4 linked regions of the Homo sapiens genome follow. The protein of the gene in region 3 purifies or fractionates together with the protein of the main gene of each other region. This does not show direct contact. Each region holds a gene or a part of one and is shown on either strand. Other genes may lie near its edges. The genes, in order: VCPIP1, SUGT1, LRCH3 and TMOD3.

Region 1 (7,029 bases), on a different chromosome or scaffold from region 3:
CTGATGGTATATCTTAATTGTAAATATAATACACTGAGTTTTCCTGTTATCTTTGGGGGAAAAGAAATCTGTAGCCATTGTAAGTTTTTAATTATATATTTCAGGAGAGAATTATTTTTAGTATTTTGAACAGTTGATAGATGTTAATAGGATTATTGAGTAACTATTAGGAAAATAGAAAGTTAAGGTAGTCCCTCAATAATAGTCAACAGATTATTTAAATATATCTTATTCTTGCAATTGCTTTTTAAAAAACAGACTTGTATTTATTTAAAGCGTTTTAAATTTTTTGGTAGGCTCTATTGATCCTGCCTACCTTGCCCCTTTTTCATTTATTTTTAATTTTTATTTTCCTGTATGTCATGTGATTTCAGCACTTCCTGTTTGATGAATTGCAGTTTCTGGTGTTTATATTCTCACTGCACTCCCACCTAGTAGTCTCTTACATTTCATTTTCTTCCTTTCCCAGTTCATCACATTTTTCTTTCTCATACACTAGGATTTGTATGTAAGTACACTAGGATTTGTATTTAAGTAATTTCACTACTCAAGTCTTTGCCATCAATTATAATGAACTGTTATAAGTTGTAGTTCATGAGAAACATAAACAGAGATGGATGGTAATGGTGTAAAGAAGTATTTGTTTTTAATCAGCATAAATTAAAGAAAAATATATTAACCAAATGTGTAATTTAAAGCTTTAGATGATTTGGGATACTGTTCAATGGTGTACTTTTTACAGTGTCTATATTTGCTTAGTCTTTGTTTTGAAATAACTTAGTATGCTTTACTAAGTCTTAAAGTATGAAGTAAAATTTAAATGTGTTAGTTACTGGAAGGGTTTTATTTTTGCTGAGATTAAAGCTTTCAACGAGAAAAGTCATCTGGGTTTTGATTCTGTTTTCTGATAGTACTATATGGCAGTGATTTGGGCCTTAATCTATCAAAATGAATACTACTCCTGGCTTATCTGGGGGAGTAGTAAATAGGGGATCTAAAAACCCTGCACAAATTTAGAACCCGGAATTGTTGATTTTAGTTTGCCAGACATAGTAATTGAATTGGGGAGTATGTCAGGAACTGTCCTACGCACTTTATATATTTCTTTTTTTTTTTTCTTTTTTTTTTGAGATGGAGTCTTGCTCTGTCTCCAGGCTGGAGTGCAGTGGCGCCATCTCGGCTCACTGCAAACTCCACCTCCCGGGTTCAAGCAATTCTCCTGCCTCAGCCTCCCAAGTAGCTGGGACTACAGGCCCACGCCTCCATGCCCAGCTAATTTTTGTATTTTTAGTAGAGACGGGGTTTCAACTTGTTGACCAGGATGGTCCTGATCTCCTGACCTTGTGATCAAGGTCACTTAAATACGAATGCTAGTGTACTTAAATACAAATCCTAGGTGGCCTGTGACTGTAATCCCAGATACTCTGGAGGCTGAGGCAGGAGAATCGCTTCAACCCCGGAGTTGGAGGTTGCGGTGAGCCTAGATCGCGCCACGGCACTCCAGCCTGGCGACAGAGCGAGACTCTGTCTCAAAAAATAAATAAATAAATGAATAAGTAAATAAATAAAAGACCTTCAATCTCCCAGGTCAAAAACAGGAAAGAGAAGATCTTCCTCAATAGAAGATGGACTCTTGAGAATGTGGCTCTTACCTTTATCCTTGTATGCACAGAACCTGATAATAGTGCTCAGCAGGTAGTATGCACTCTGAAATGTTTTTTAATTGAATTAAATAGATGACATTAACACAGCTAAAGAAAGGCTGTATCTGCAGAAATGGAATGGATGGTCAGTCAGCACTGAACATTGAAAAAAGTGAAAAGCAGAATTCGGCAATGTTCATATACTGCTGTACAAAGGAAAAAGGTACATCATCTGGGGTTCATGAAAATTCTGGTAACTAGAAAGGTAATCTCTGTCGAGGGGTAGGAATATTTGAACAATCCTGACTGTGGCCTGGCTGAAACATCTCTATCCCTTTGCCTGATTTCCATGTTCATCAGGCATCTATTCGTAACACTTATTTAGCTTCCTGATAACAAGTTTTGATGTACAGGTGACAGTGCAGATAAGGACGTGTTCACTTTGAAAGCTGTATTCTCCATTGTAGACTAATAAACGGACATGGGCAGGATTATGATCAGTAGTCTTAAAAATATGATCAGAGCCAGTCACGGTGGCTCATGCCTGTAATCCCAGCACTTTGGGAGGCTGAGGCGGGCAGATCACGAGGTCAGGAGTTCGAGACCATCCTGGCTAAGATGGTGAAACCCTGTTTCTACTAAAAATACAAAAAAAAAATAAGCCGGGTGTGGTGGCAGGAGCCTGTAGTCCCAGCTTGTCAGGAGGCTGAGGCAGGAGAATCTTGTGAACCGGGGAGGCAGAGGTTGCAGTGAGCCGAGATCGTGCCACTGCACTCCATCCTGGGCGACAGAACAAGACTGTATCTCAAAAAAAAAAAAAAAATCTGATCGGTATGATTATATATAGATTTTTGAGACAGAGTCTCACTCTGTCGCCCAGGCTGGAATGCAGTGGCGCGATCTCAGCTCATTGCAACCTCTGCTACCTGGGTTCAAATGATTCTCCTGCCTCAGCCTCCTGAGTAGCTGGGATTACAGGCATGTGCCACCACACCTGGCTAATTTTTTTGTATTTTTAGTAGAGACAGGGTTTCACCGTGTTAGCTGGGATGGTCTCAATCTTCTGATCTCATGAACCGCCCGCCTCGGCCTCCCAAAGTGCTGGGATTACAGGCGTGAGTCACTGTGCCTGGTTGATAATATATTTCATAATGAAAATTAATCAAATATAATTCTGGTGTATAAATACTTTCTGAGTTTGGTTGGAGGTTCTTGGACCTGAATATCTGAGAGAACCTAGAGTATGGACTGCAATGAGTTCACCAAGATAATGTCTTTCTATTCTGATCCCTTCCCTCTTCATATCCAGCATTTATGCCTGTATAAACCCACAAATTTCTTTAAAACTTCTTCCACTACCAACACAAAATTTGGGTGTAAAAGAGAGCATTGTGTTACTTTTGTAATGATATCACTTGAGATACTTTCTGCTTTAAATTGAAGTATTAAGTGCATAGCCTGTATTATATTAGTCCCTTATAAATCTTAGTTTTCTTCCTCTAGTTCGCTTATGACTGTATTTGAATTATGTAGAAGATTTTTTTTTTGAGACAGAGTCTCGCAGTGTCGCCAGGCTGGAGTGCAGTGGTGCGATCTCGGCTCACTGCAACCTCTGCCTCCTGGGTTCAAGCAATTGTCGTGCCTCAGCCTCCCAAGTAGCTGGGATTACAAGCACGTGCCACCACACCCAGCTAATTTTTGTATTTTAATAGAGAGAGAGTTTCTCCATGTTGGTCAGGCTGGTCTTGAACTCCCGACCTCAGGGGATCCGCCCTCCTCGGCCTCCCAAAGTGCTGGGATTACAGGCATGAGCCACTGCGCCTGGCCGAAGATATTCTTAATTTAAAAAAAAAGATGTTCCTACAAAATTCAGTTTGGGGATAAATACTAACCATATGTAAAGAGTACTGGGGAACTGTTGATGTTTAGATTGGAGAGGACTAGAAAATGACAGAGCTTGTTTAGAAGATTACAGATTTCAAAGTGCAGAAATTACTTTGTGAATTACCAAATGTGAGCTAAGCTGTGTTATGTTAGTTTAGAATATAGCTCATCAGACTTTATGCTGTTCAAATAGCTGGTTCTTTCTCGTTTAAGTTTAGGCTTAAATACCACCACCCTGTAAGGGTTTGAGAAAACTTTGCTGACCATTCTAAGTAGGTTCCCTCTATCAGTGTACCCTGTTGATGTCCCTCACGGCATCTATCACAATTTTTAATAATCTTATTTGTTGGTTTAATTATTTGTTTGCCTCCCCCACTATATTATAAAGTCCATCAAGACAGAGACTGAACCCTATTTTCTTCACTAATCAATACCTTATTTCCTAGTTCAGGGCCTGGCACATAGTAGGTACCAAGTAAATGCTTGTTGGATTAATGAATGCAATTATTTCAGCAAAATCAGTGTATACTATGAACTTGTATGTATGTTGAGTGTACAAAGATAAATGAAAGTCAGTGCTTGCCCTCCATTAACTTACCTGCAGGCTTTCAGCTGAAGGAGTTCCATACTTTTTAGCTTTCATCAGCAGATCTCCAGCTTTATTTTCTAAATACATAAAAATTATAAAATCCCCAAATAGGACCAACACAGCATTTTAGAACTTCTCATTTGATTAAGAATCAAATATATACATGGGGATTGTATATTTTCTTTCTTTTTTTTTTCTGGAGACAGATTGTCGCCCAGCCTGGAGTGCAGTGGTGTGATCCCAGCTCACTGCAACCTCTGCTTCCTGGGTCCAAGTGATTCTCAACCTCTCAAGTAGCTGGGACTACAGGTGCGCACCACCACGCCCAGCTAATTTTTTGTATTTTTAGTAGAGATGGGGTTTCGCCACGTTGCCCATGCTGGTCTCGAACTCCTGAGCTCAGACAATCCACCGCCTCGGCTTCCCAAAGTGCTAGGATTACAGGCGTGAGCCACTGCACCCGGCCTGTATGTTTTCACTAAATGGGCTGACTGCATGATAGCCAGGGACATGAGCTTTTTCTTTCATTTTTAAGTAGGATATTCATTGATTAGATCGTCTATTACTTATATTAATAAAACAATAAGTAGGTGTATTAGTCTTTGGCTTAGTACAAGTCATTCATGGAACCTAGTAACTTTGAATCTTAGGAACTATAAAATGGAATAACAATATTTTACCCATAATATTTTACATTTTTAATCTCTTTTATCCAGACCACAAAGTAATTGAACTTAATTTTTTGCAGACAGTCATCTTCATTATTTATATAATACTTAAAAGACTAACTCTGGCTTTGCAAAATATGTCATTCAGATTTCTTGTAGACCTGGTGCGGTTGCAGTGAGCCAAGATTGCGCCACTGCACTCCAGTCTGGGCAACAGAGCAACACTCTTTCCAAAAAAAAAAAAAAAATTTCTTGTAGATCAGTTATTTGTAGGTTTTCTTTCATGGTAGACAGGATAGGTGGTACATTATCCACCATAAATATTTGGGCTAATTTATTTTTTCTTAGTGTTATATTTCATTAAGTTTCTAGTTTTGTTTGTTTTTTTGTTTTCCTAGAGGTAAGGACAGATTTAGGTGAAGAACAGAATTTGTCAGTTTGGAGTTACTTAAATGAAATTAGGCTACATGACACTTCCTTGCTTTACTACAAAGTGTACCAACCTTTCAGGAGTTGAGAAACTTGTTTCATTTTGATATACTTTCTCTGTTCCTGAAAGAATTGTGTGGCTTTTTAACGTATATATATATTTAAAATACACAATATTTTGTAATTTCATAATACCTCTTGATGTCGTAAATGCCTTAGAATTTTCCAGAATCGGCTGGGTGCGGTGGCTCACGCATTTAATCCAGCATTTTGGGAGGCTGAGGCGGGTGGATCATGAGGTCAGGAGTTTGAGACCAGGCTGGCCAAGATGGTGAAACCCCGTCTCTACTAAAAATACAAAAATTAGCCGGGCATGATGGCGCTCGCCTGTAATCCCAGCTACTCAGGAGGTTGAGGCAGGAGAATCACTTGAACCCAGGAGGCGGAGGTTGTAGTGAGCCAAGATCATGCCATTGCACTCCAGCCTGGTGACAGAGTGAGACTCTGTCTCAAAAAAAGAAAAAAAGAATTTTCCAGAATCACGCTTGGGACTGAGACACTTATTTTTTAGGTGACAACTGAATATTATTATTGCACCTTTTTTTTTTTCAAATGTTGGGTAAAGGGCAGTTTCAAATCTAGATAGTACTTATGCATATTCTTCTTTTTTTTTTTTTTTTTCCCCAAGATGGAGCCTTGCTCTGTCGCTCAGGCTGGAGTGCAGTGGTGCAATCTCGGCTCACTGCAACCTCTGCCTCCCAGTTTCAAGCGATTCTCCTGCCTCAGCCTCCCGAGTAGCTGGAATTACAGGCGCCTGCCACAACACCTGGCTAATTTTTGTATTTTTAGTAGAGACGGGGTTTCACCATGTTGGCTGGGCTGGTCTCGAACTCCTGACCTCGTGATCCGCCCACCTGGGCCTCCCAAAGTGCTGGGATTACAGGCGTGAGCCACCGTGTCTGGCTGCATATTATTATTCTTTCTATGCCTTCTGATAGCCCTTCTGTTGATTTATATGTAGCATACTTGTAATGGGAGAGCAGTTATAAAGTTGAATAAAAAATAATGCATAGGTGTATCTTAAGATAAATGTATATATTGTAAATGGTGATTTTATATAATTATACTTTGAAAATTAAGTCAAATATTGATGTTATTCCTTTCTAGATAGAAAAGGAAATCTAGATAATAATAGATTCTGTTCCAACTACTTTGATCACTTTTATTTTAAATATTTTTTCAATTACAATATAATGTTTAAAATTCAAATAATTCAAGTACCTATAAAATATGGTAGTTCTTAACATTTGTACTCCCCAGATAAAATCATTATTAATAAATTGGGATGTGTCCTTTCAGACTCTGTACACATTTAAACACTGTTGAGTTTGTGTGCATGTCTGTGTATGATAAAAATATTCATTAATGCTGCTGGTGACACTAAAGTTGTGTGACTATATACCGTTAAGGGGACTGAATTTCAGGCAAGAAACAGATATGCCTTTTTTATAAACCATTTTGACTATCAATAGGGTAGATAAACTTTTAAACGTGAGGATTACGTCAGGAAGGGTAGAGAGATGCCAACAATTCTTTCAGCAAATGAATACCTTTACCTTTGGAATTCTGTCTAGTTGAAACAGTCCTGTGTTCCTACTTTATATTTGGAACCATTTATTCAAATTATTAAAAAATTTTGAATTGTTTCTTTAAATTTTAAATTTAAATAAACAAGTACTTCATTTTATGGTCATAAATAGTTGAGTTCAGAGTTCGTTTTGGGTGTTTCTTTTGGGGCTTTAAAAATACATTTTGG
Region 2 (7,029 bases), on a different chromosome or scaffold from region 3:
ATATGCTGATGTTGCCCAGGACCACTGTCTAGGCTCAAGATAGACTTGAGTCATCAGCATGCATCAACACATATGTGAAGCCCCCCAGTAGTTAAGGAATCAAAGAATGTTTGTAGAGGGGAAGAAGTCTTAAGTACTGAGCCCAAGGAGAACATTAGTTTTTAAGAGGCAGCAGAATGGTAAGCTGAAAGGCCTGGTTATTATTGTCAAGGGCCACAGAGAGATCAAGTCAGATAGGAATCAGTTGGATTTTATAAGGGGTTATTAGTGACTTTGAGAAGATTAAGACTAGAGAGGCAAATATTTTTGTATTCTATGGCAAAGGAGATGCAGTCAAAGTAGAGACTGGGGAAAAGGCTGAAAAAAGTCTGCAAGAAGAAAAATCAATACTTTTCATTGAGTGATTACTGGATGTCACATACAGATCTAGGCAAGCCCAACACCCTGGAGTCATCTTCAGTTTCTCTTATCCCACATGTTCACCCATTAGCAAGTCTCTCTGCTTCTAATATGTTCCAACTTAATCGTATTTCTTTTCATCACCTCTGTGGCTAACATCCTTTTCTAGCCTAGACTTAATGTAATAGTTTCCTAAGAAGTCTCCGTTTCCAGTCTTGATTTGATAATGTATTTACCATACTGCAGCCAGAATGACATTAAAAAAAAGTAAATTGGACCATGTTCCCCTTACTAACAGTGAACTTTCCATGGCTTTCCATCAAACGTAAGGTCCAAATTCCTTATAACTGCCTGCAAGCTACAAAGTGAGGCCCTTAAAGTAGCATCTTACAGCTTCTTTGCTCTCTTGATTTGAGCCTTACTTTCTGTTGATTGACTGTAACCCCATGTGAGTTGAGGAGCATCTGTATATGTTGCTTTCTGAGAGTCACACTACTAGGTTAAAGCAAAGTCAATGATACATGTGGCTCTTGAAATAATTTTACCATTTAAGAAAACTACCAAATCCCTAGAGTTTGTAGGCAGTTGGCAGAAAATAAAAGTGTTCCTGCACTTGTCTTTGATCTCCCTAATTGTGTAATCTCTTACATCATTATTTTTCCAGCTACCACACCTATATGTTGTGACTGCACAAGTTAAAAAAGTTTCAATCTCTAATGTTAACTCTTGGTAGTTGACATAGCCATCTATTAGATTGTATCTGGGCTTTGAACAGAATATTTAGTTGGGTTTTATTAGAGTTGTGTGCTATTGTTAGAGGCTAGGAGAGGGCCAGGTACACTTGATTGTGTATGTATTGATTGTCTTAACCTCCCTGAGTGCTAGATTTAACTTCTGGTCTTTTTTTATTGCACAGCTTAACATTTTCTAGGAATCTCAAATTCTATATGGTGTTTGAATCTTCTTCAAATTAGTAGGAGGAAATCTGTAATGGTCAATGTGTAACAATTAAACTCTTCAGAATATATGAGCTGATAATAATGATCATTTATTAAGTTCTATAGACCAGGAACTAAAAGCTTTACGGTACAGAGATGCTACATTAGATTGCCTACTTTTGGGAGGAGGGGCAAGAGAAGTGGGGGAGATATTGATCCTTTTATAAGGAAAAACTCCAATATTATATCCGTGTTATCTTTCCTCCAAATAGCTTCTGACAATAAGTTACTTGATTAAAAATTATGTTTTAATTAGAATTTGATGGCTTCTTACAAACTTTTACTGACGCTCCACATGTTTGTTTTTGTAGGAGCTGACTAAGGCTTTGGAACAGAAACCAGATGATGCACAGTATTATTGTCAAAGAGCTTATTGTCACATTCTTCTTGGGAATTACTGTGGTAACGTTTCTTATAAAGTATATTGCCCCCTTTTAATAAGTTACTTATACATTTTACCCATGACAAATTAAAAGTTGTCTTTGAGAATTTTTAAATTGGTCTTTTATACAAGGTAAAGTAGCTCAAATGTGACAGACATGTTGAGCAACACCCATTTAAATTTTATGGATGTCGCTTTTTCCTTCATTGGGTGGAGAATGTATACAGATTTCATTCATAGTTATTGGGTATGCTGATAAAAAATAGCATCACATTTACTATTTGACAGACTATTAAAATGAAATGCTCGTTTAAATTTTTTTTATAAAAAAGAATGTGGCCAGGCATGGTGGCTCACGCCTGTAATCCCAACACTTTGGGAGACCAAAGCAGGAGGATCATTTGAGCCCAGGAGTTCAAGACCAGCCTGGGCAACATAACAAGACCACCTGTATTTAAAAAGTAATGTATTTCTGTATTTTGTACCTTCTGAATAGGGAAAAACTGAATACCTTGAGTAAAATTACATAGAAAATGTTAATGAGACAAGGAGGTGAATTTTGTGACACAGCTGTATTCATTGAAGAGCTTTAAGAAGGAAGCTAAATGTTAAGCCAAAAGGAAGGTACAAGAGTAATATTTATTTGAATTCTATCTTGTATTAGCTTTTCCTAATTTAAAACCATTTGGCATTTCTACCAACTTGAAAACTTAGAAATCTAAAACTGATTCATATGTTGTGTGTATTTGCTAGGATCTATAAATAACTGACTAAAAACCCGTCTTTTTCTACACAGTTGCTGTTGCTGATGCAAAGAAGTCTCTAGAACTCAATCCAAATAATTCCACTGCTATGCTGAGAAAAGGGTATGCAGTAGCTACTCTTCTTGTTGAGCTTGGTATAGATAGTAGGTATTTAATTTGTTGAATGAGTTCATTGCAAGCTTTATATAAGTTGTAAAATTCTGTATTTATACATTATATAGCAGAGATATGATTCAATTTTAAATACAACTTATAGTTCTATTATTTTGTTAACCAAAGTATGTGATAGGAGATCTGTACTTAGTAAATTTTAAAATAGTGATGATTGAAGTATTTGCAAGGTATAGATGAAACTGATAGATTTCACATTGCTTTTTTTTTTTTTTTTTTCAATCTTTTGGAATTTACTATATTTAATTGACTGGACAACATCCTATTCAGCAAAGCTGAATAGGCTACATTTAATGCTATGAAAGCGCTATATCTGTATACTTTATATCCCATCTTGTTTCTGTTGATAAGTATAACTATTCTTTAAGAAACTTCTTTAATTCCTTTGTATAATTATATTTTTGAGTAAGCAAGTCTGTACAATTAAAGTCAGATTCCTTCTGAAGTGAGTTCTAAAATTGAATTTTAGTAGGAATTGTACTAGATCTTAACAGTATATTAGAAAGTCTCTAGGTTTATTAACATACACTTAAAATAAATTTTTTCTTTCAACAGTAGAAAATACTAAGTTTTTTATTTAGAAAGAAGGTATTTTCCAGATTTTTTGTGTGTCTTAATTTGTTTTAAATATATTCATGCAGAATATGTGAATACCATGAAAAAAACTATGCTGCTGCCCTAGAAACTTTTACAGAAGGACAAAAATTAGATAGTAAGTATTAAAAATTATACTTTAATAAACTTATCTATTTCTGTCTTAAATACCAAAGCTGAATTTTGGTAATGTTAATTTCAAGTTAATTGTAGAAACCCAATACCTGTTTTTCTCATCTAAATTATATTTCATATTGATTGCAGATATGAGATCACTTAAAATCGATTAAATTAGCCTTTTGGCATTTAAATCATAGATGAACTTCACCATTAGAAGTAAAAAAAACTATGGAAACACCTAACATGCTCTCTCTGTTTAGTCTGGCTTTGTTTTTTTCTAATGGAGAAGTGAAAGTTTAATTTGCCTTGGTCAGAAGTCTGTTCATTTTAAATTATTCAGATTGCTGAGATGTGAAATCTTAACATTAAAGGTTTTTATGGAGAAGTGAAGTGTACGTTTGGGTAAATTATGAGAGGGTACAGAAGAAACACAGTTTTGAGAGTATTGTGACTTTTAATGTTATATTCTTGAGGGAATATATGAAAAGTATCACAGTGGTGTGGATATCTAGACATATAGAAATTGTGAGAGTCAAGAATATATATATATATATATATATATATTTTTTTTTTTTTTTTTTTTTTTTTTTTTTTTGAGACGGAGTCTCACTCTGTCGCCCAGGCTGGAGTGCAGTGGCGCGATCTCGACTCACTGCAAGCTCTGCCTCCCGGGTTCACGCCATTCTTCTGCCTCAGCCCCCCGAGTAGCTGGGACTACAGGCGACCACCACCACGCCCGGCCAATTTTTTTGTATTTTTAGTAGAGATGGGGTTTCACCATGTTAGCCAGGATGGTCTCAATCTCCTGACCTTGTGATCCACCCTCCTCGGCCTCCCAAAGTGCTGGGATTACAGGCATGAGCCACTGCACCCAGCCGAGAGCCAAGAATTTTTAAATCTGAAAAATACTAAGAGGTTGTGAGTAATTTCAGAAAATTGGAGACTACATAATCCTACTTGTATTATCATTTTATCTTTATGTTATGATAGAGTTTTATCACAGTTCTCTAAAGAAGTGGTTCTTAACTGGAAACGGTTTTGCTTCCCAGGAAACTTTATGCAATGTCTGAAGAGATTTTTGATAATCATGAATGGTGGATGGGGGTTGTGCTACTGACATCTAATGAGTATAAACCAGGGGTGCTACTAAATATTCTATAATGCCCAGGACAGTTCTGCCTAACAAAGAAGTATATGGTCCAAAATGTCAGTAGTGCTGAAATTAAGAAACTTCACTCTTAGTATTTTATGTTACATTCTTACTCTGTACTGTTTTGAATGTTTGCCTTTCTGTTGTGTACCTATTCAGAAAAAAGGATTTTAGCACTGATTATGCAAATGGAAGCTACAAATTAAAAAAGGAGAGGTCTGGGTGATAAGGCTTATTCTCAAACTTGCTTATCCCAGTTTTGGTATGTGAATAGTAGGCCTATTCAGTCAGCAAACAGGACATCTGCACTCTTAGCAAATTCTAGAGTGAAGTTATGTAGTGCCTTGGTACCTAATGTGAAAATCCTGAAGAAACATGAGTCATACCATTCTCTACATTTTCATTTTTCTTTCTTTTTTTAGCGAGAGAAGGTCTCGCTCTGTCGCCCAGGCTGGAGTGCAGTGGTGCGATCTTGGGTCACTGCAGCCTCCACCTCTTGGGCTCAAGTGATCCTCCCACCTCAGCCTCCTGAGTAACTGGGGCTACAGGCACATGCCACCACACCTGACTAATTTTTGCATTTTATTTTTTGCAGAGATGGGGATTTGCCATGTTGCCCAGGCTGGTCTTGAACTCCTGGACTCAAGCGTTCTGCCTGCCTCGGCCTCTGAAAGTGCTGGGGTTACAGGCATGAGCCACTGCGTCTGGCCCCTAGATTATTTTCTTGAGTAATATCTTAATATCATGCCATTGACATTTATTCTTTAGTTATTTCAGAGGTGGCCTTCAGAGGAAGACCTGTTTGGTAAAATTGCTGTTGAGGATATTTTACTTAAAAATAAATTTGTCTTTAAATCCAGGAAACTTTTTTTGTTGTTGTTTTTTGGGGTTTTTTTTTGTTTTTGTTTGTTTGTTTGTTTGTTTCTTTTTTTGAGACTGAGTCTCACTGTGTTGTCCAGGCCATAGTGCAGTTCTCTGTCTCTCAAGTTCAGGTGATTCTCCTGCCTCAACCTCCTGAGCAGCTGGGACTACAGGCATGCACCACCAAGCCTGGCTAATTTTTGTATTTTTAGTAGAGACGGGGTTTCATCGTGTTGGCCAGGCTGGTCTCCAACTCTTGACCTCAAGTGATCCACCTGCCTTGGACTCCCAAAGTGCTGGGATTACAGGTATGAGCCACCATGCCCGGCCAAAATCTGGGAAAAAGTTAAGTTAAACTTTTAGGCTTCTATTTTTATCAGACAGGGTAAAGAATTGTTACCTTTTCCCCTCTTTGTGTGATAAATTGCTTGGTTTTAGTTACTGATTACTTAAAATAATAGGTTACTCAAATCTTTTTGATATAATAGATTTTGATACAATAGTTCTCTAGAATACAGTGTGTGTGAGAGTGTATTTAAATTTTTTATTAATGCTGGTATAGTTGGATTTCTTTTATAAATTAGTAAAGTAGAAATTTTTGTTAAGAAATTTTTAATTTAAGATTTTCAAATTTATCTTGTCTGCAGTTAACTTGAATTAATAAGCTCTTATTTAGAGTACTTTTAATACTTTTAACATATCTTACTATGCACTGTGACTGTTTAAATGTAATCATTGTTCTGTGTCTCCAGAAGTGAATAATTTGTTTATGCATACATTTACACTGTTATCTATAAATATATAATACATCACCTATAGCCTCTCGACTGCCATGTAACTTGGAGATAGGACAAAACTTCACGGAATTTAAAGATGCTTGGTGTTGGTAGGAAAGGCATGGTAACAGATAAAGCCACTGAGAGAATAGTGGACTGAATAGGTATCTGCATTGAAGAGCAAGCTGGGGCTGGGAACGGCTTTTGAACCTCAACTCAGCTCCCAGTTACCAAGCCTCCTCCCCACCCTAACTGATGGCATATTGGGAGTCTGATTTACATCTGATTTTGTTCTGTGTGTGAGGAAGCTTCTCTAAGAGCAGCGGGATTGGGGGAAATGCAGATTATTTGTATCTGTGAAATTAAGGTTGACTGTAGTTAAAATTTTTAAAAAATCAAAATGTTTCATGATTAACAACTAAATGTTAAACTATTGGTATATTTATAACTATAGTAGAGTTGGTGATAAGGTCTGTTAAGACAGGTTTTGTTCGCTGCCGACTCCCCAGTGCCTAGAACACTGCCTGGGATGTAGTAGGTATTCAGTAAGTATTTGTTGATTTATAGGTTGTGCAGATGAGTGATGTTATAGTCAGTTTTTTCTTTCTAGGTGCAGATGCTAATTTCAGTGTCTGGATTAAAAGGTGTCAAGAAGCTCAGAATGGTATGTGGGTCTCCCTTGGTATTTGTTTCAATTTAAAAAGAAGTAAACATCTGAAATTTTTTTGGTTTAAACAAATTTGTTTTTATCTTTATAATTTCTTTTAAATAGTATACGTTTCCTTAGATGTGGACTTCCAAAGATACACTGGTT
Region 3 (7,029 bases):
TGAGGAGAAATGCTTTAAATCTCTGACTATGCAAACTAGTCAGTGTGATAAGTTTACTTGGTATTTGAACAGTATAATCAAAAGTTATTTATTTATATATTACTGAAATGTATTAGTGACTAGAAAATGAAAACATATTTACCAGTTAAACACCTAAAATAACACTTAACCAAATAATATAATTTATTAGTTTTTAAATATTACTGTATGTACTTGATAGAAATGCCTCCCTTTCCCAATGTATGTTACATAAAATGTTGATATGATAAAAAGGAGCATACTTCAGATGAGTAATAATTTGGCTACATCTGTGTGACTTTATTTAGATATGTATAAAAGGCAAAGTCCACATATTTAAATACCTGAACATACAAGCTTGTAAGATTGCTCCAGATCTGCCGGATTATGATAGGAGACCGTTGGGTTTTGGCTCCTGGTAAGTATATTCTGTCCCTTTATCTATCATATTTTTTGTACAGAGAATCAAATAAAATGGATACTTAAATTTGCCTGAATGTTTGACTAAAGGGAAATAACCTGTTTTAACACTGTTATTCTCAGAATGCTTGTATTGTAAAGTTGATTACCTAGATCTGGCAAAGTCTAGTTCTAAGGGTTTCTCAACCTTGGCACTGTTGACATTTTAGATCAGATAATTCTTTGTTGTGATGGGCTGTCCTGTACATTGTAAGACATTTACCAGCATCCTTGGTGTCTGCCCATTAGATAGATGCCAGTAGTACCCTCGCAAAGTCTCCAAATGTCACCTTGGGGCCCTCCAGTTGAAAACTACTGGTCTGAGTGACTTGAACGCTAACTTTAGCTCTGCTGCTGAGGTAACTAGCCGAAGGCAAGTCATTCCTACTTTTTGAGTTTCATTTTTTCTACAAGGAGTCAAGAGTTGGATTTGTTGACCATTAACATCACTTCAGGATCTTTTAATCTATGAGTCCCTCAGCTACACAGCCTGTGACTTATAAGGTCATCTGCTTGGCAGTCCCAACCATCTGGAACAATCTCTTTTTTTTGAAACAAGGTCTTACTATGTTGCCCAGCCTGGTCTCAAACTCCTGAGCTCAAGCATTCCTCCCACCTCAGCCTCCTGAGTATGGAGCAGTCTTAAGTAGCAAGAATTAAATTCTTAGGCCTTTAAACAAGCAGGATAGATGTTTCAGTCAAAGTGAAGTAATGTTTATGGACTTTACTCAAAAGAGAACCTCTCAGGCCTTCTCTTGAACCTCTCAAATTTTGCTTAAAAGCACAGTCCTAGTAAACTCGCCTCATTGGACGAACAAGAATTGCAGAGGTGTGATTGTTTTGAAGCTGGATAATAATGAGTACATGAGGTCTCATGCTATTCTGTTTGCTTTGTTTCTATTTGGAATTTTTCATATTAAAAAATTAAAGCCCATTTAGTTCTAATAGTTAAGTGACTGCCACATTTCTTGTTTTTTAGAAAATTGATCTGTTTAATTTCAAATTTTAATTGTTAAAATAACAAACTTTGCAGTAACAGAGTCTCTTTTCGGCAGCCATGAAGAACTGTACTCAAGTCGCCCTTATGGAGCCCTTGATTCAGGCTTCAATAGTGTGGACAGTGGTGATAAGAGATGGTCAGGGAATGAAGTAAGTGTTTTTTATGTTCCGTGTGTTATAACACCTGATTAAGAGAAAACAGAATGATGAAAATGAAAAGCGTCTTAACTGGATTCAGTTTCTCACTACATAAAATACAGAAAAGTCAAGGTGGAGGCAAGATTCCCACCCTCTCCAGCAGAATTGGCATTCTGCGTCCTTACCGGCTTTCTGTCACGTGGATTTCCGCCTGTTTCCTCATTGCCTCATGGAAATAGTTTCATATCATAGAAAGGCAAACAGGAGCTGAGCCAGTTGAAACTGAAGCCTACAATCTGAGGTGGGGGGTAATCTCGAGCAGAGGTGCTAGATGGTGAGAAAACAAGTAGGACTTTCGGCTGATGGGTAGAGACAAGGACCTTAGTAAAGAGTATTCATGTGCTCAAGAGGAATAACTTCCTGGCTAATTCTGTCGTTTTTCTCGTTTTTAAATTATTGATATTATGTTTTCTGCTCTTAAAAATTACTGTGTCCACAGAGGTCTACAGAAGAAAAAAAGTAAAAAAATAAATAAAAATTACTAATGTGTAATATTTTAGCTATGCATTAAGTTATTAAGTAAACTTTTGTTAGCAAGACTGATAACCTACTATTTATAACATTGTTTTACTGTGAATTGAAACCAAATTAATTTTAGACCACATCCCATTTGAAATTTGGAATTACTTGTGTTTGTATGTCTTGGTGGGTGGGTTCATAAATGTGGCTGTATCAATACAGATATATATGTAGATATTTTAAATCTATATATATATAATTTATGGAGTCATGAATCTTTTATATTTTTTGAGACAGAGTCTTGCTCTTTCACCCAGGCTGGAGTGCAGTGGCACGACCATGGCTCAAGCAGTCCTCCCACCTAAACCTCCTGAGTAGCTGGGACTACAGGCTTATGCCACCATGCCTGGCTAATTAAAAAAAATTTTTTTTTAGAGACATGCTCTCCCTATATTGCCCAGGCTAGTCTCAAACTCCTGGGCTTGTCATTCCCATCTTGGTCTCCCAAAGTGTTGGGATTATAGGCATCAGCCACCACTCCAGACCAGATTTTTATTTTTTTGAAATAGGATCTCGCTTTGTCGCACAGGCTGGAGTGCAGTGGTGGAATCCTGTCTCATTGCAGCCTCGAACTCCTGGGCTGAAGCGATCGTCTCGCCTCAACATCCCAAGTATTAGGATTACAGGCATGTGTGAGCACATCTAGCTAATTTACTCCTGGCCTCAAGTGATCCTCCTGCTTTGGTCTCCCAAAGCGCATGGATTACAGGCATGATCTGCCAGGCTCTAAAATGATTGTTTTTAATGTTTCTGCTTCTTTTTTAAGCCTACAGATGAATTTTCAGATCTGCCTCTTCGAGTAGCAGAGATTACTAAAGAACAAAGACTACGAAGAGAAAGCCAGTACCAAGAGAACCGCGGCAGTTTGGTAGTAACAAACGGCGGAGGTAAACATAATTCCGGTGACAGCTAAAGTGTTTGCAACCATTTAACTTTTTAAAGTTGTCTTTTTCATACCCACTCCTTTTGTTGGTGTATCTATAGCTTCTTCACTCTTCTTTTAAAGACTTCTTTTCATATATGATTGAAAAATACTATTTTCCATTGGGATGAAACTATGATTTCTGGTTTCAGTCAGAGTTAAAATACACTATTTCTCCCTTGTTTTTATTTTGGGAGGAAACTTTATTAGAGACAGTACACCTGGAGCAGATCTTTGTTAATCTGGATTTAATCACGACCTTTTGAAGTAACATTCTCCCTTTTTAAGATTCTTGCTGTGGTCATTATTTGATCTCTTTTAGGAATTTAGTCCTTTTTTTTTTTTTTTTCAGTGTTTACCTTTTCTTCACCTGGAATTGTCAGATGCTCTTCAAAGTCATCTGAATCACAGTTTTCCTTATTCTGACATTAAAAAATTTGTAGTTCATTAGCAAGCAGCACTCTCTCTACTTGCTTATACTTCCGAAGCAGACTCTTGATTTTCGCATTCAATTCTGTATTGCTTGAATTGGTTTGAATTTAATGTTTAATGTTTAATTTCATATTTAAATTTTGAGGGCCAGTTATAATGGAAAATAACTTTGATTTTCCAGAAACCTATTGCTTATCCGAGGAGAGCTTTCATTTCTCAGTGACGATTTCAATTAAATGGTTTGCTGTCCTTTTCCTTACCATCTTAGATTCTTTACTCCTGTCGTTACCATTTCATTTACATTTCAGTAGTTGTCTTTTAAGTGTTTCTCTCATATGAGGTATCTTTCTCCATCAGTTTATTTAAGACTTAAAATAATGTTGAGATCTGTGCCGGTATGATAGCCACTAGCCACATGTGATAATTATTGAGTATTTGAAATGTGTTTTTTTAGGCTGGGCGTGGTGGCTCACGCCTGTAATCCCAACACTTTGGGAGGTTGAGGCGGGTGGATCACTTGAGGTCAAGAGTTTGAGACCAGCCTGGCCAACATGGTGAAACCCCATCTCTACTAAAAACCGAAAAAAAAAAAAAAAAAAAAAAAAAAGCAGGGCATAGTGGCATATGCCTGTAATCCCAGCTACTCGGGAGGCTGAGGCAGGAGAATCACTTGAACTCGGGAGGTGGAGGTTGCAGTGAGCCAAGATCACGCCACTGCACTCCAGCCTGGGTGACAGAATGAGACTGTATCTCGAAAAAAAATCAGAAATGTGGTTTTTCCAAATTGATATGTATTGTAAGTATAAAATACACATCAGATTTTGAAGACTTCCTTTGAAAAAAAGCGTGTAAAATAGTAATATTTTGCATTGATTATATGTTGAAGTGATATTTAGACATATTAGACAATGTAAAATATTAAAGTTAATGCTGCCTCTTTTACTTTAAAAAATATGGCTACTAGAAAATTTCAAACGACATATGTGGTTCACCTTCATGGCTTGTGTTATTTTTCTCTTTGGCCACACTGGTCTAGATTGGATGAAGAAGTAAAGTTACTTTCTTCAGAAATCGTCTTAATATAAACCATTAATTTAGTCAGAAAAGTTTTAGCACATTTAAAAAATGCATTTATGTACCTGGTTTCTAATGTGGATGTAAACTTAGAACCTTTTCATCTTTTTTAGCTATTAATAAAACTCTAATAACTCAAAATTCAATTTTATATTAATTGTAGTCACAGAATTATTTGTCAATAATTGAGTCAGAAGACTAAATTGAGAAATAGGCTTCCCCAAGTTCACTGTTCCAGCAACTGCGATTTTTAGGCAGCCTGTAGAACGTCATGAAGTAACAGGTTGTGGTTTAATGCATCTCTGGAAAAACTATCTTAGTAGGAAGTTTTTTTTTCTAGTGTGCCATTTTAAGTAGTTGTTTCATTACTTTTAAACTTAAAAATAATGGGGGATTCCCAAACTTAGCAGATGAACAAGATGTGGCTAAAAATAATTTATATACGTCTCCTCACCCTAAAGCATTTTGAGAAGAAGAAACTCCTCAAATGAATCCCTTCCCATCCATAAACTATTATAAAATATCTACATTGCTGACCTCTAGCAGATAGTTTTCCAAATAGGACAATCTTTGTTCTGATCTTTTTTGTTTCTGCTTAATTGACAACAATTACAGGAAGGGAGATAGTAGTCAGAAACTCTTTCTTTCTCGAGTCCAGTTTACTCCTACCTTTTCTCTTTTTTGTGTGTGGCCTTTGACTTTCTCTTGAGTTGACTGTGTTCGGTTTTCCACCTGCCATCTCCTCACGGAGATATTAAGCCCCAGACCTAAAACACGAAAACACAAAGATGCACCTTTCAGTCTTTAAAAATTGGTCTTCGCTCTTTGTCTCACAAACTGAAACTACTGTGTTTAAAACAGTAAGGAGCTGTCCAAAGAAAAATGGTAGAGGTCTCTATTTCAATAATTATCATCAATTGCTACATTCTTTAGTGAACTAGGACTAAGGTTTTCTGGAGCCTATTTTTGTGAGTGGCCATGAACTAAATAATAAACACTTGTGTGCCAGGCACGTTGGCTGATGCCTGTAATCCCAGCACTTTGGGTGGCCACAGTGGGCGGATCGCTTGAGCCCAGGAGTTGGAGACCAGCCTGGCCAACATGGTGAAACCCCGTCTCTACTAAAAATACAAAAGTTAGCCGGGCGTGGTGGTGCACACCTGTAATCCCAGCTACTTGGGAGGCTGAGGCAGGAGAATCGCTTGAACGTGAGAAGCAGAGGTTGCAGTGAGCCAAGATTGCACCACTGCACTGCAGCCTGGATGACAAAGGGAGACCCTGTCTCAAAAAAACAAAACAAAATAAAATATAAGTAAAATTAATTTAATTTTTTTTTTGTTTTTGAGACGGAGTCTTGCTATGTCACCCAAGCTGGAGTGCAGTGGTACGGTCTTGGCTCACCGTAACTTCTGTCTCCCGGGTTCAAGCAATTCTCTTGTCTCAGCCTCCCGAGTAGCTGGGACTACAGGCGTGTGCCACTAAGCCCAGCTAATTTTTGTATTTTTAGTAGAGACGGGATTTCAGCATATTGGTCAGGCTTGCCTTGAACTCCTGACTTCAGGTGATCCACTCACCACCTCCACCTCCCAAAGTGCTGGGATTACAGGCGTGAGCCACCAACCTTGGACATAAAATGGGTAAAAAAAAAAAAAAAAAAAAAGACTTAAGTAATTTAAAGTTTTTATCATCCCTCCCACTTTCAAAATAGAAAATCATGGGGAAAAGGAAATAAGTAAATGTCTTTTATTGGCTATCTAATTTGAATGTTTTTTTCTGGTGTGTGTGTGTGTGTGGGTGTGTGTGTGGTGTATACAGTGGAACATGATCTGGATCAGATTGACTACATAGACAGCTGCACCGCAGAGGAAGAGGAGGCCGAGGTGAGACAGCCCAAGGGACCAGACCCAGACAGCCTTAGTTCACAGTTTATGGCGTATATTGAACAGCGGCGAATCTCTCATGAGGTAGTACACAGATTGAAGCCTAAATATGTTGCTATCCCTTCATAAAAATAATTCATAATAGTATAAAGTTTTGTTATATCAGTGATTTGTTGACTGAAGCCTAATTGTTTTCATTATGTTCACTTCTGATTTCAGTCCTGAGTTTTTCAGATTTATTCAGAAAACTCAGACAGCAGCCTCAAGTAGGCTTTAGGTTTATTTTTCAAACAAGAAGAAAGATTTCAGAATTTTGCAGGAGGAATAAAAGAAGTCTAGGTACTGTTAAGGCCTTGGAAGAAAGTACAAAGAAAAATACAGTGATGCTTTTCATTGTTGTTTTTATTGCTTTTTTATTGTTACTAACTGATAAATCATAGTTTGGTCAGTAGTTAATTAACAGTTAAACCAAAAAGTTGACTTTTGTGGCAACATGCAGACTTAACCATAGAATTTTTATAATATGCT
Region 4 (6,602 bases), on a different chromosome or scaffold from region 3:
AGAAAACTGTTAAACAATGAAATCAAAGATAATAAATATGATAGATTTCCAGTATGAGGCACTTGCAAAACAGTCATTTAAACTGATGGTTACTGTAAGTCAGTTGGAAGCTGGCATGTATGTAAATTACTTGGTGTTACACCATATCCGAAGAAGTTCCTATGTGCAGTGCAGAATTGCATAAACAGTATTTAATCACTGCTACAAATCTTCCAACCAAGAAGGAAAACTGCTATTCTTCATAAATCTAATTTTTAGTATATGCTTCCTTTCATCTTATACTTTTATCAATATTTATAAAAGTCATTTCTATAATAAAAGCAGTCTTTCTTGCTCAAAGTATTAAGGTGAACAATTGAATAGAGTACTGTGGTCGGGAGACTGATTTGAGACTGCAGAGCTGATGCTGGGTAGAGGGTCTGGACTTGTATTCATGTTCTGTCTCAGGGCAGCCCCTGGAGCAGGAGATGGCAGAGGCATTTACAGCTGCAGAAAACAGGGAGGAATGGAATCTGAGGTAGCCCTGGCCTCAAAATTCAGGCCTGGCTGTATCATTTACAGAGATTTTTCTGGAGGGAAAAGTCTCATTTCTGAGGAAGGCAAGGTGGCTAATCATTATTAATTTTTTTTAAACTTTTTGGGCCGGGCGCAGTGGCTCACGCCTGTAATCCCAGCACTTTTGGGAAGCCAAAGTGGGTGGATCACTTAAGGTCAGGAGTTCAAGACCAGCCTGGCCAACATGGTGAAACCCTGTCTCTACTAAAAATCAAAAAAGTAGCCGGGTGTGGTGGTGCACACCTGTAATCCCAGCTACTCAGGAGGCTGAGGCAGGAGAATTGCTTGAACCTGGGAGATGGAGATTGCAGTGAGCTGAGATCGTACCACTGCACTGCAGTCTGGGTGACAAAGCAAGACTCTGTCTCAAAAAACAAACAAACAAACAAACTTTTTGAAATTGAATTGCAATATGTCTGCTACTTTGGCTTGGGCTGGACAGTTTATCTAATAAGCAAGGCAGCTTCTTGTGTGCTATGGTAATAAGCCTTCTTAACAGGCTAAGCTTCCCTCATAAGAACTGTGGTGTTTCTCTTTTTTTTTTTTTGTTTTGGTTTGTTTTGGTTTTTTGGTTTTGTTTTGTTTTGTTTTTTAAATCAGTATCCAATGTTTTATAGGGGCCAAAGGTTAACTTTGCACTATTCCCTGTCAGTTAAAGGCCACTGATATTTTTCTAAGTTAGCAAGGCTCACTTGCTTGCTTTCTTGCCTCCCTTGCCTCCATCCCTCTCCCTTCCTACCTTCTCTATTTACCTATTTCTCTCCCTCCCTCTCTTCTCCTCTCTTTTTTTTTCCCCGCATATGCAGCTTTTTGATTGTACTTGATTTTATAGAGACTGCACAGTTCCAGCAAGATTGGGAGTCAGGCATGGAGCAGGCATCTCAGGCTACCAGAAAGAATTGGTCACCTAGACTTTCAGTCAGGCATCCTCGTTTGCATTGTCCTGTAAGTCAATTAGTTGATAAATAGTTCCCCCTTCATCCCTTAAGTTTTGTTTTTGTTTTTGTTTTTAATATAGGTAAGTGGGACTCTACCTAAAATTTTGCATCATACTTATGGGTAATATCTTTTTCATATATTATTTATCAAAGTATGAAGTTGAGTATTTTGCTTGTACCATTTCAATTCTGCATTATAGTAGTTCATTGTATAACTGAAAGAAATGATTTCTTCATAAGTGACATTAAATATGAACATTCATCCAATTGAATTTACAAAATCTTTCCAAAATTATAAGGGAGAAAAATCGGGTTTACTTCAATCTTTAAAAATCTGGCACCTCTTAGTAACTTTCAGTATTTCTAAATTGCTCTAAAATTTTATAATAAATAGATTAGGGTTTTGCAATAGTCTTAATTTTTAAGCCAAAGGTTTTCTGAGACCTTAGGTTTTGTAGTCTAACCAGCTTATGTGGTTATTTAAAAGAATATTCTTTGTGTTTTTAAATTGCTATTTTTAAAAAAGCTTTTTATTACCCATTTTATAAAATGTTATACTCATATTTGTCTGAATTTTTCCAGTATTCCTACATGAAATTGTATGTATTAAAAACTCAATATTAGTGGCAAATATTAATACTATTAAAATGGATTTTGGTGCTATATTCTTGTAGCTAAAGCCTAGTAGAATTCTCAAGAATAGGTGAAATACACTTTCAAAGTTGCCTGTCATTTAAAAGACCAAATAAGCATTTTGTATTAAATAAATTAGCAGATGGTTAGAGACTTCAAGGAGAGTTAGCTTGGTCATTTAATTGCGACTTCATGTTATTTGATTGAAATAACCCACATCCTTGCTTTGTATAAGATATTCGCTCTGGAGAAGTTACATGTAAATAGAATTCTATAAATTGTTTTCCAGTTGACCGAGTATCTGTTGTGTTTTTGTTTAAAAAGAGGATTCCATGACATAATAAAAATTATTTTAAAAAATGTTTTGGGCCGGGTGCGGTGGCTCACGCCTGTAATCCTAGCACTTTGGGAGGCCGAGGTGGGCGGATCACCTGAGGTCAGGAGTTCGAGACCAGCCTGACCAACATGGAGAAACCCTGTCTCTACTAAAAATACAAAATTAGCCAGGCGTGGTGGCACACACCTGTGATCTCAGCTACTCGGGAGGCTGAGGCAGGAGAATCACTAGAACTCGGGAGGCGGAGGTTGCAGTTAGCTGAGGTCGCGCCATTGCACTCCAGCATGGGCAACAAGAGTGAAACTCCGTCTCAAAAAAAAAAAAATTTTTTTTTTTTTATAAAATGTTACTCATATCATATTGTACGTTATATTTAACTCTTGCTGTCATTAAAATAAGATGACAACATTTATGAAGTTTTATAAAATCTTACATTTTAGGGTCTGTGTTCCCAGGGCTGCCTCACTTTTTCCCTAAAAAACTAGGAACCACTGTTAACCTCCCAGCAGATGCAAGGATCATGCTTTCTCTGGAGTCCTTAGTCACTTCCATTCTTTGCAAGTTTAGTACTGCCCAAATTTACTCATTCTACAGTGTTACTGCACTTTGAACGTATTGACCCATGTCACCCAAGAGAAGCAAACATATGGATGCACTAGAGACAACTCGGGTTGCTGCTCTCAGTTAAGGGCTATGAGTTCTTGGGGTCTAAGTATCTGTAAAATTATCCTCTCCATCAGCTCTCACTGATCATTAATGTTTCTGGATATTTCTTACCCTAAGATTTGCTTACCAACAAATCAAAGAAACGCTTCACTAATTATTTTTAAATTGAGAAAATAGTATTCAGAGGCAAAGATTTTTATATTCTTTTTTGAGACCAAGTCTCACTCTGTCATCCAGGCTGGAGTGCAGTGGTGCGATCTCAGCTCACTGCAGCTTCCACCTCCCAGATTCAAGTGATTCTCCTGCCTCAGCCTCCCAAGTAGCTGGGATTACAGGCGTCCGCCACCACGCCCGGATAACTTTTTGTATTTTTAATAGAGACGGGGTTTCACCATGTTGGCCGGGCTGTTCTCAAAGTGACCTCAGGTGATCCACTCGCCTCGGCCTCCCAAAGTGCTGGGATTACAGGCTTGAGCCACCACACTCAGCCTTATTCTTATATTTTAATTTGGTCATTCTTAGATCTACAGATTGAACATCCCTAATTGAAAACTTTTTGAGTACTAACATAGTGTTCAAAGGAAATGCTTATTGGAGCATTTAGAATTTCAGATTTTCAGATTAGGGATGCTGAACTGGTGTAATGCCCAGTATTCCAAAATCCAAAATAATTTGAAATCTGAAACACTTAATGGTCCCAGCATGTTGGATAAGGGATACTCAACCTGTATTGATTTTTCTCCACTATAATTCAGTTCTATAAGTTCTTCCCTATAAAAAATGAATGAATTAGAAATTTGATAATAAAACATATTTTATTAATTTTAAACTCTATCTTGCAGTCTGATCATTCAGAAAGGTCAACCTAGAAAAAAGACATGGCTAAGTAAACTATTTTAAGCCATAACTAAGTATTTTGGAAAGCCTTCATTAACACATAAAGAATTTTGGCCAAGTACTGTGGCTTATGCCTGTAATCCTAGCACTTTGGAAAGCCGAGGCCGACGGATCACTTGAGCTCAGGAGTTTGAGACCAACCTGCGTAACATGGTGAAACCCCATATCTACAAAAAGTACAAAAATTAGCTGGGTGCGGTGGCGCATGCCTGTAGTCCCATCTACTCGGAAGACTGAGGCAGCAGAACCGCTTGAGCCTAGGAGGTGGAGGTTGCAGTAAGATGAGATCATGCTGCTGTACTCTAGCCTGGGCAATGAGAGTGAAACTCTTATCTCAAAAAAAAAAAAAAAAAAAGAGCTATACTCATAGTACTTTGGGAGACCAAGCAGGGAGGATTACTTGAGACCAGGAGTTTGAGACTACCATGGACAACATAGCAAGACCCCATCTTTACAAAAAATTTAAAAATTAGCCAGACACCTATAGTACCAGCTACTTAGGAGTCTAAAGTGGGAGAATTGCTTGAGCCTGGGAGGTTGAAGCAGCAGTGAGCTTTGATCATGCCACTGCATTCCAGCCTGGGTAACAAGAGTGAGACTGTCTCAAAAAACAAAACAAAACAAAAAAATGGGTTTTTTTGTTGTTGTTTTTGTCTTTTACTTAGGACACCTGCTCTAGAGGCTAGATAAAAATAGATTGTAATGGCCGGGTGCAGTGGCTCACACTTGTAATCCCAGCACTGTGGAGGCTGAGGTGGGCGGATCACTTGAGGTCAGGAGTACGAGACCAGTCTGGCCAACATGGTGAAACCCCATCTCTACTAAAAATACAAAAAATTAGTTGGGCGTGGTGATGCGCACCTGTAATTCTAGCTACTTGGGAGCCTAAGGCAGGAGAATCACTTGAACCTGGGAGGCAGAAGTTGCAGTGAGCCGAGATTGTGCCATTGCACTCCAGCCTGGGTGACAGAGTGAGACTCCATCTCAAAAAAATATATGTATTAAGAAATACCACCAGCAGTGTTTTGCTAACATAGCTGTAACAAATTATTAAGTTCTTTTTTTTTTTTAAGATGGAGGTTCACTCTTGTCGCCCAGGCTGGAGCGCAATGGTGCGATCTCAGCTCACTGCAACCTCCGCCTCCTGGGTTCAGATGATTTTCCTGCCTCAGCCTCCTGGGTAGCTGGGACTACAGGTGCCCGCCACCACGCCTGACTAATTTTTGTATTTTCAGTAGAGACGGAGTTTCACCATCTTGGCCAGGCTGGTCTCGAACTCCTGACCTCGTAATCCACCCGCCTCGGCCTCCCAAAGTGCTGGGATTACAGGTGTTTGCCACCGCGCCCAGCCCAAATTATTACATTCGTAAGACAGACACCTCTTAGAATCTATATATATGAGGTTTTACTCCCTTTTCTACACTCAGTATGTTTTAATTGATGCAAAGCAATTAATTGGCCTAAAATGTTTCAAATATTATAGTCTATACATTCAGAAAGTAAGGTTTAAGAATGAATTATTGGTGCTTCTTGGTGGGTGTATATAGCAGTTTTTAGAAGTTTAAATTTCACCTCTACTCAGAAAGATAAGCTTTTGATTCAGTGGTTTCAAATTTTCAGATCAATCCATTTAAGAATTGTTTTTTCAAATGTATATACACGTATAACATAAAAATTTTTGTAATTTCAAATGTCTTTTTTTCAGTTTTTTGGATGAATTATTATATTTGGTTTTAGTTACATTTAAAAGCTTGAAAATTACCTTTCTAACAATCATTTGAATGTCATTCATTGTCACATGAAATCAGGTATTTACGTTTTTTTCTAATGCTAAAATATCCAACATTGTAATTGCCCTATTTTTCCATTTTTATAAGTATAAAAGCAATGAATTTTAACACTGGTATTTAAATAATACAAAATATTATCCAAATTCATAACAGCACAGTGAAGTTTCTTTTGAAGACTATGTACTGGAAGCATTTAGAACTTACCAATATATACTGGGATAAATCGTTTCAATAAAGTTTATCAAATATTCTGTAAACTTGGACTTTTTGAAAAAGCACATAATCCCTTTAGTTCCTAAGTTCTAAAATTCATTCCTTACATCCTTCTTCAAGAAAAAGTTTATCAGTTTCCCTGAGTTATTCAGTCCTACCTGTTATGGACTGAATGTTTGTATCCACACCCGCCCCCCCACCCCAAATTCACATGTTGAAGCCCTAACCTCCAATGTGATGGTATTTGGAGATGGGGCCTTTGGAAGGTAATTAAGGCTAGATAGGGTCACAAGGTTGGTCCCCTTATGATGGCATTTGTGTTCTTATACAAAGAGACAGGAGACTCTCTCCATCATGTGAAGATACAGCAAAACAGCAGCTGTCTGCAAGCCAGGAAGGGAACCCTCACCAGGAACCAAACCATGATCTCGGACGTCCCAGCCTCTAGGAACGTAAGCAATAAATTTCTGTTATTTAAGCCACCCAGTCTATGGTATCTTGTTAGGACAATCTGACCTGGCTAAATACCACCATATTAAGTTGAATCATATAAAATTAGTTATAATAGTTGAA

The links.
Region 1: the proteins of LRCH3 (region 3) and VCPIP1 purify together in Homo sapiens (co-immunoprecipitation; 3 studies listed by BioGRID and IntAct, with this or other methods). This does not show direct contact.
Region 2: the proteins of LRCH3 (region 3) and SUGT1 purify together in Homo sapiens (co-immunoprecipitation; 4 studies listed by BioGRID and IntAct, with this or other methods). This does not show direct contact.
Region 4: the proteins of LRCH3 (region 3) and TMOD3 purify together in Homo sapiens (affinity purification with mass spectrometry; 2 studies listed by BioGRID and IntAct, with this or other methods). This does not show direct contact.

What each region holds. Positions count from the first base shown.
Region 1 is NC_000008.11:66,657,203-66,664,231, reverse strand, and holds part of VCPIP1 (deubiquitinating protein VCPIP1), read left to right. Parts: intron 1-7,029. UniProt on the Homo sapiens protein: Deubiquitinating enzyme involved in DNA repair and reassembly of the Golgi apparatus and the endoplasmic reticulum following mitosis. Necessary for VCP-mediated reassembly of Golgi stacks after mitosis.
Region 2 is NC_000013.11:52,655,824-52,662,852, forward strand, and holds part of SUGT1 (protein SGT1 homolog), read left to right. Parts: intron 1-1,708; coding exon 1,709-1,799; intron 1,800-2,275; exon of another isoform or gene 2,276-2,384; coding exon of another isoform or gene 2,385-2,403; intron 2,404-2,575; coding exon 2,576-2,645; intron 2,646-3,355; coding exon 3,356-3,426; intron 3,427-5,651; coding exon of another isoform or gene 5,652-5,747; intron 5,748-6,825; coding exon 6,826-6,879; intron 6,880-7,029. UniProt on the Homo sapiens protein: May play a role in ubiquitination and subsequent proteasomal degradation of target proteins.
Region 3 is NC_000003.12:197,829,238-197,836,266, forward strand, and holds part of LRCH3 (DISP complex protein LRCH3), read left to right. Parts: intron 1-326; coding exon 327-436; intron 437-1,527; exon of another isoform or gene 1,528-1,532; coding exon 1,533-1,626; exon of another isoform or gene 1,627-1,660; intron 1,661-1,799; exon of another isoform or gene 1,800-1,986; intron 1,987-2,037; exon of another isoform or gene 2,038-2,117; intron 2,118-2,959; coding exon 2,960-3,080; intron 3,081-5,290; exon of another isoform or gene 5,291-5,388; intron 5,389-6,436; coding exon 6,437-6,585; intron 6,586-7,029. UniProt on the Homo sapiens protein: As part of the DISP complex, may regulate the association of septins with actin and thereby regulate the actin cytoskeleton.
Region 4 is NC_000015.10:51,909,653-51,916,254, forward strand, and holds the end of TMOD3 (tropomodulin-3), read left to right. Parts: 3' UTR 1-6,073; downstream 6,074-6,602. UniProt on the Homo sapiens protein: Blocks the elongation and depolymerization of the actin filaments at the pointed end. The Tmod/TM complex contributes to the formation of the short actin protofilament, which in turn defines the geometry of the membrane skeleton.